2 linked regions of the Homo sapiens genome follow. The protein of the gene in region 2 interacts with the protein of the main gene of each other region in a biochemical or structural test. Each region holds a gene or a part of one and is shown on either strand. Other genes may lie near its edges.

Evidence for each region.
Region 1: the proteins of RASSF2 (region 2) and RASSF5 form a complex in vitro, tested with the Homo sapiens proteins (one study listed by BioGRID).

What each region holds. Positions count from the first base shown.
Region 1 is NC_000001.11:206,510,394-206,514,303, reverse strand, and holds part of RASSF5 (ras association domain-containing protein 5), read right to left. Parts: intron 1-3,910. UniProt on the Homo sapiens protein: Potential tumor suppressor. Seems to be involved in lymphocyte adhesion by linking RAP1A activation upon T-cell receptor or chemokine stimulation to integrin activation.
Region 2 is NC_000020.11:4,781,992-4,785,901, forward strand, and holds part of RASSF2 (ras association domain-containing protein 2), read right to left. Parts: intron 2,352-3,910; coding exon 2,282-2,351; 3' UTR 1-2,281. UniProt on the Homo sapiens protein: Potential tumor suppressor. Acts as a KRAS-specific effector protein. May promote apoptosis and cell cycle arrest. Stabilizes STK3/MST2 by protecting it from proteasomal degradation.

The sequences.
Region 1 (3,910 bases), on a different chromosome or scaffold from region 2:
AAAATCTAGAACCTGCTACAATTCCCAGGGGTCACCAGACTCCTCAGCCAAAGTGGGGCATTCTCCCCTGGGAGGCTGGACACATGCTATGATGCCAGGAGGGACCCCACTGCCCTTCCTCCTTCCTCTCCAAAAAGGGTAAAAAAAGAGAATCAAACCTCAAAGATTTCCCAATGGGTACATCTCTCACAAACCTTTGTGTACTCTAGGAACCACAGGCATGCTAGAACAGGCCCGGCATGGCCTTGTGGGCCACTTCAGCCAAAGACCACACCATGGAGAGTTCTTGGGGTCTACCAGGCTCTGCCCAAGTCTCCTCAGCATAGTTATGAGTGCTTCAGAAAAAACTCAAAAGTCACTTCCCCAGGTGTGAGTCAAGATAGTCTTGACCTTGGGGTGGGGCAACCCATGACTGCTCCCAAGCCCCGACTTTATTCCACTTAAACCAGTGCCCCCAGGGAACCCAGCCTTCTGCCTGGTCTAACGTCATCACCTCAGCCTCCTCGCTGTTTCCCCTAAGCCCCAAAACTGGCTCTGTTCCCCTTCCGACCCTGAGATCCAGCCCGGAACATGTGGAGAAAGGCTTGCCAAAAGTCTTGGAAAAAAACTGAAAATGACTAAATGCAAAACCATCTCCCCAGTCAGGCCCGGCCTTCCCAGCTGCCGCCAGCCCTTCCCCACCCAGCCATGGAGAGTCAGAACAGAGCCCTGCGGGAGGGGCAGGTGCCCAGAGTCAGCAGAGACAGAGCGAGACCCTGCAGGGAGGCAGAAAGCATCCTGCCACCAGCACAGACCCAGGTCTGCAAGCTTGTGAGAAGGAAATCATACCAGCTGGTGCTGACTGAGCCCCAGGAACATGGTTCCCTCAGAAGGGCTGGGGGTGGGGAGCTTGCATGCTTTGCACACCCACAAATACTCACCCACCCAAGAATACTCACCTTGCCATCTGAGGAATGCGAACAGGAAGGGCCTCTGGTGAGGCCAGAGATGTGTTTACAGGTTCCTCAGCAGCCTTCATAGTAAGCCTGGGCAGAGCAAGAATGCCAGCAGCTGCCCTCCATGGGGAAACTGAGGAATGAGGGGTGGGTGTGGGAGCCAGAGAGAACCCTGTGGGAGAACACTGGGGTGCAGGAGCTGGGACCCACCCATGGCCATCCCACCTCAGGTAGCAGCCTCTCACACAGAGGTGCTGACTCTGAAGCCCAAAGCGGGGGAAATGGCTTGAGGGCCTGAGACAGCACCAAAGCCTTGAAGACCTGTCAGAATGAGGCCCGCCCGAGAGGTTCTAACTTTACCACTGTCCCTGGCAAAGCCAGCAGGTGACTCCTGGCCAGGTAATTCCCTTTCAGCTGAGCTAAGCATCCCTGTATCCCTGTATTCTGACCTCATGAAACTATTTTGAGCATGAATGTAGCAGCGGGCATGAAAACACTTTGGGCTCTTCAGAGAAAAGGCACTACTGACATGCAAAGAATTCTTCTTATGCCCATTCTCAGACCTGGGTTCGGCCTTGCGGCAGCTTCCCCTGAGCCTCTGGCCCCTGACCTGCTCACACTTCACAGGAGGTAGCTCCCTGACAGGATAAATTCACTCTCCCACCGAGGCAGGGCCCTTGGGACTGGGCTGGGGGCTGTCTTTTCTTTGTCACTCAGGGACTACCTGCCAGGCTTGGCACAGGCTGGCTCGCCGGTAGAATTGGGGAGAAGAGAGAGGATATCAGACCAAACCCTCAGTGCTGCGGGGAGATGTCAATTCACTTCCACCTAATAACTCCGCAGGATCAGCAGGCAAACACACACGTTCATTACCAAGTCTAATTAGGCTGGCAGACAAGTGGCATTAATCATTTTTGACTGTACCTGGGATTCAAGCCCCCCACACTCCATAATCAGAAAATTTCATGCTCTGATGAATAGTGGGGAAAATTAAGCGCACATTTAATCCTTTCACTTTCATCTTTTGATAAGACAGGAAGCAGGGAGGAGAGGAAAAACGGGCTGCAGCGTGGGAAGCTCAGAAGGCCTCTTTGAAAGCATTCCAGGTCCTTTCCCTGGCCCCTAACGCACACATCCTCCAACAGGACCTTGCCCAAGAAGAAGATCCCAGTTAGAGCCAGGGGTAGGAGAGGGCTTGGGAGTGGGGGATTCTCACAATCTTTAACAACAAAATTTCCATTTCTGTGCTTCATTTTCTTAAACTCTAAAGCCAAACACGGGGCTAAATCAAGGAAAACACACGCTACACACTCAGTGCTGCTGGGTGCGCAAATACCTTCCAAGTGCCCAAGGTAAATAAATACAGAAGCCGCCAGAACAACACAGGATGATTTCTGAGAGGCCTGAAATGAAGACCTTTCTCTGCTACAGAAAGAATCAATGCCAATGTCCCAGGAGCCTTTTTCACAAAGAACCCACAAGCGGGGGATGGGTCTGCAGGATCGGGGGCTGTCACGCAGGCGGTTCCAGCTGTGCAGAAAGTGCAGAAAGTGGAGCTGAACCCAGCCAATAGCGTAGCAACAAGACTAGAGAGACCAGACTAGAGGCCCAGGGAGATATCAGCCATTCTTAATAAGAATAGTCCCGGTGCCCTTCCCCGAGGGCTGCATGGCAGGGCCTTGTAGTCACATCATTAAAATCTATCACAGAGTGGGGAGGTTAGTTGGCCTCCCTTTCAACCATGTAATTCCAATCACTTAACACTTCACAGCTCTGAATAACGCCCCCTCTGGAGAGAGACTCCGACTCCAGGAGCAGACAGGTGGCATTCACTGACAATGGCCAAGGTGTGTCTAAGCATCTCCAGGAGGGTTTGAGTCAGGCTTAGGTTTCTCCAAGTGCCAGACCATCCCCTGGTCCAGGATGGCTTACGCAGCCACCAAAATGAGATGAAAGGTAAAAGGCCACCTCCATGCGCCTTCTACAGAAGGAACACTAAGGGACGTCATCTGTAAGGGGAAGTCCCTGAGAATAAAGCCAAAGGGCAGCCAGTGAGTTTCTCTGGTTATTTGCTGTTGACCATTCCCTCCTAGAATGCTAGAAATGCATTCTCGCCATCACCATCACCCCTACCCCAAAACACACACATGGGCTCACAGGACCTTTCGTTCTCTCTCTGCCTTTCCACAGATCCCCACTGGATTTCCTTCTCTATCTCACAACTAGGAGTTCTTTAATCCTAGAAATTAATATTAACTCTGAACTTCCCTGTTCACAAATCCAGCATTAACCAGAGGTTGGTTACAGACCTTGAAGTGGGGTAAGCTTAGGTTAGATGAACTTTTGCTAAAAAGGCAGACAGTGGGAAGAGTGTTTTCCAAAATGCTTTCCTTACTAAAGTGCCCTTCTGCCAACATGGTTCCCACCCAGTGTCAGTCTCCTGGGCAGACAGATGTCACTCACATACCCACTGCCCTCCTGCTTGTTTCCAAGGGCTGGGATATTTAATAGCACAAACAAGCCATCACTTTCATCACTCACCACATAGTGAGACCCTGCTCTGGGCCTGGCACTCTGCTGGGTGCAAGAAACACAAAGACAAGGAGCCAATGGCTTCGTGGCCCCTATGCCAGGCAAAGAAGGGTCTCCTCAGCCACAGCAGGACATCAGGTAGGAGTGGCATTTCTAGAGGACACCTAATACCCAAATTTTCTGGGATGTCTATGGCAGTCACTTCCCCACTTAGCTCAGCAACCAGGCAGAGTTCGCAAATTGTACTCACTGCTTCGAAAGGTAATCCTAGGAGGTGTCACAAGCCCAGACTAGTTGTTACAGCTGTTAGATGGGAGGGGACAATAACAATCATATCGAATTAAACATTCGTATTGCATTTTGCTAGGCCCTGTTCTGAGTGCCTTATGTATATTAATCCATTTAATTCTCAGATTAACATGATGAAGTAGGTAATATCATTA
Region 2 (3,910 bases):
CAAAATGGAAAAGTGTGGTCTGCATTACGTGGAAGTGTGTTGTGTGAGATGGGATCTCCTCTCACTTCCACCTCCTGACCTCCCATCTTTAAAAAGCTGAGTCTGCCTTAGTATCGCTCCCTTGGAAAGTGATCTGGCCAACTGGACATGTTGCAGTATTTCCCCATCTAACACTATCGTAGTGCTAGTGCAAATCAAAGAGAACTCTTATAAGCCAGAAATCGCTGTCCAGTAAGAGCTAGTGGTTAGTAGTTTGCTTTGTGGAAATTCTTCTCCCAAGTCCTCCAAGGAGAATTACTGGGGCCAACTAAGGCCCTGAACATTCAAAATAAAAATTACCAGAAGAGAAGTTCTCCAAATCATTTTCTCAATTGCAAAACTCAGGAGGTGTTTGCATTCACAGAACTGTTCTTTCCCAGCTGTAACAAAGGAAGCCTCTCCCGGTGGCTACTCTTTGTCTTCTTACCCCAGTTCTGTGCAGCTTGCAGAAGCCCTTCTGGGCTTCCACTCCATGCCCCACAGGGCTGGTGCTGCTGTCCCTATGGAGGAAGGAGACTTGCTATAAAACCCTTGGCGAAATGCCAGGGGCCGCATGCCATCTTTCTGCAGTCTACGTTAAGACCACAGCTGTGAGCCTTCTCAAGAAGCCATAGGTATGAATCGGGGGCAGGAGGGTGCCCAGGGCAGAAACGTCTCCACCAAAAAAGTCCACCTTCCTTTGGAGGCACCAACCAGGGGCTGTCCTTTCCTCAACTGCCCAGCTCTGCAAACATTCTGTGGAGAGAAGGTGGAGAAGAGATGGGCAGTGCCTCTACCCCAGCTAGGCTCAAAGACGCCTGCTATCAGGAGCTCCTGATCTTGCTTGGTCAATCTCCATAGCCAGGCACCCAGGTCCAAGCATCTGTCTCCCTCCTCAAACGATATCAGCTGCACTGATGCCCAGCTGCCTGTCAAGCTTCCTGATAGGAGTCCCAGGGCACAGACTGTTCTTGCCCTTTTCTCCCATTGGGGTTGGATTTAAAGATCACATAGGTGGCTGCTCAGAGGAGCTGAGGAGAAGCTCCATCCTCCCCATGCACCTTCACCAGGTGGCCTAAAGAGCTTCCCTGAACCCCACACTCAGTAGCAAGATGAGGCTTCATTCTTGGAATGCATCTCCACACACAAGGTGAGGGCAACTTGCAAGAACCCAGAGGTTGGAAAGAATGGTCTTGACTGCAAACATCGCCCCAGCTTCAAGTGCAGGAAGACCTTTGATGACATGAAGATGGGCTGCGTTCAAGGCACCTGTCATATCTGCAGGTAGCCTCGACATTTCCCTTCAACCTGAAACTTCCTGGCCACCAGGCCACCAGGCCCTGGCCACACTAGCTGGTCAGCACTGTGTACGCACCAGCGAGATCTTTGTTTCTTGAGACATTTCCTTCCACTCAAGGAAGCGCCATAGAGACAGGCTGTCAGCTGGGTACAGAGAAACACACAGGATCTTCTCTGTCTCCTAAAGGTAGCCATGGAGGCAGAGATGGAGGCAGAATCCACTCTTCACAGGTTTCCACATAGAACATCACATATGTCTTTGTCATTTAAAACAATCAACGTTTCCAGTGTAAAAATACGTGGGCTTATTGCATCTACCCCACGGATGGTTTATCTTTTTCTTTCCATCAGACTTGCCGCAAGGTTATGTGGCTGTTATTTTGTTAATTTCCAAGGCTCTTACATTCACTGATCCTTCTAGGCATACAGGGAGAATTTCTACCAACATATAAACAACCCAAATGGTGAACCTGGAGAACCCTCTTCCCTCTCTAAACACAGACAGACGTGTGGCTGCTCCCTGGCACTTGAGAGGAGAAATCTTTCCTTCAACCTAAATACCACTCAGATCAGTGGCTCCTCTGATTTTCCTGCTCACGAGCAGCACATGTGCCAAGCTCACGGCTCTTGTGCTGGTTGCCTGGAATTTAATTACATGTGAAAGTATCAGGTAGGCACATGGACACGTACCATGTGTGCACACACATGTACACACACACATTTTGGGTCCTCCTTATAACTAAAATCAAAAGTCCTTGTGAGCAGAAAAAAGGAGGGCAGGGGTCCAGGGATAGGGAGCTGTCTGCTGACTTCTACATCCAGCTCCAGGTAGCAAATGATGGCTTGGCCGGAGCTGGGGAGGTTTGTGTCTAAATGTTTCCATGGAAAGAAAGTGCCTAGCTTCCTGGGGGTCTTATGGGCAATGGCGGTTCCTGGGGTGCCCAGATCCCCTCGTTCTCATGGCTCAGATTGTTGCTGGGGTCTCGGCTATCTCCTCCAGCCTCTGTCGAATCATTAGCCGGAGCACGGTGTACCTGGAGACAAGAAACAGGCTCAGATGGAGAGCAGCCAGCAACACACCCCTGCCCAGGACCTTCCCGGCCACCTGGGTAACACCAAGGTCACACCAGGTAACAGTGCAGTCAAGTGCCCTGCTCCTTTGCTTCCATTACTGACCCCTCTTTAGCTACTTTGTTGCTTATGTTCATTCCTACAACACGATGAGAGGAAATAAAGAGGCCAAATCCAAATTAGATTATTTTACTATGGGTAGAACATCTAGCCAAAAAAAAAAAAAAAAAAAAAAAGGTAAAAAAAAACAACAGCAATAATAAGCATTCTACGAATTCAGTGCGTTTGCTTACTATGTCCAAGACACTATGCATAGTACTTCATATGCACAGCAGCTCATGAACCCTCACCTAGGCTAGATGATATAAAATTGCTAACAGTTGACCCTCTTGGGGATCCTACAAAAATGGCAACTTCGTATGGTTCAACCTTATAACAGAACCTGCATTTTGCAGAAGAGGCCATAGCAGCTACTAGGCGTGGAGGTCCGTGGCTTGGGGGGAGTTCTGTTTTCCCACGACTTCCCTGAGCCGTGGCACTGCAGCTGCAGGAGTGGGCACTGTTGTGCAGGGATCAATGGACATATTCCTTATGTTCAGGGATTTGTGCTGCACAGAAAAAGCTATTTTTAAAGTTTAGGACATAGTTGGCTGGGCATGGTGGCTCACGCCTGCAATCCCAGCACTCTGAGAGGCCGAGGAGGGTGGATCACTTGAGGTCAGGAGTTCAAGACCAGCCTGGCCAACATGGCAAAACCCCGTCTCTACTAAAAATACAAAAAAAAAAAAAAAAAAAGAAAGAAAGAAAAAAATAGCTAGATATGGTGGCGCATGCCTGTAATCCCAGCTACTGGGGAGGCTGAGACGGGAGAATCACTTGAGTCTGGGAGGTAGAAGTTGCAGTGAGCCGAGATCGCATCTCTGCACTCCAGCCTGAGCAACAGAGCAAGACTCTGTGTCAAAACAAAACAAAACAACAACAACAACAACAAAAACTTTAGGACATAGTAAGTGTTCAGTGTGTTATCAGACTAGTTATGATCATCGATACAGCAAATCCAGCAGCGGCTTTATTCTCCAGTGGCAAAAATGAATCATTAATTCCACCATATCTATGAAAGGCAGTCTCTTCTATGACTAAACATAGCAAAGAAATCACAAAATCCTTCCCAGAAAGCCGCTTTATTTTTCAATCCAAATGCAATTTCCAGAAGATAAATGTTACAAAGGGAGGAAGGGGGAGAGGAGAGGATTTTGGAGGCCAGTAGCTCAGGCTACATCCACGGCTAAGACAGCCTTCCTGAAATCCCTGGAACCTCCGGGTCTTGGTTAGCACTCCTTGCCTTCACCCCTTCAGGCAAGGGGTGGTAACACTAGCCCCAGGGACTGCACTATCCCTTGAGGTTACCCCAGACTCTGCCCAAGTCTTCGCAAATAGTCCCTTCTTCAAACACCCGTCAAAGACCCTCATCGGAGTGAGCATCTGTCTCCTGCTGGGAGCCTGATCGTATACTTAAGAAACC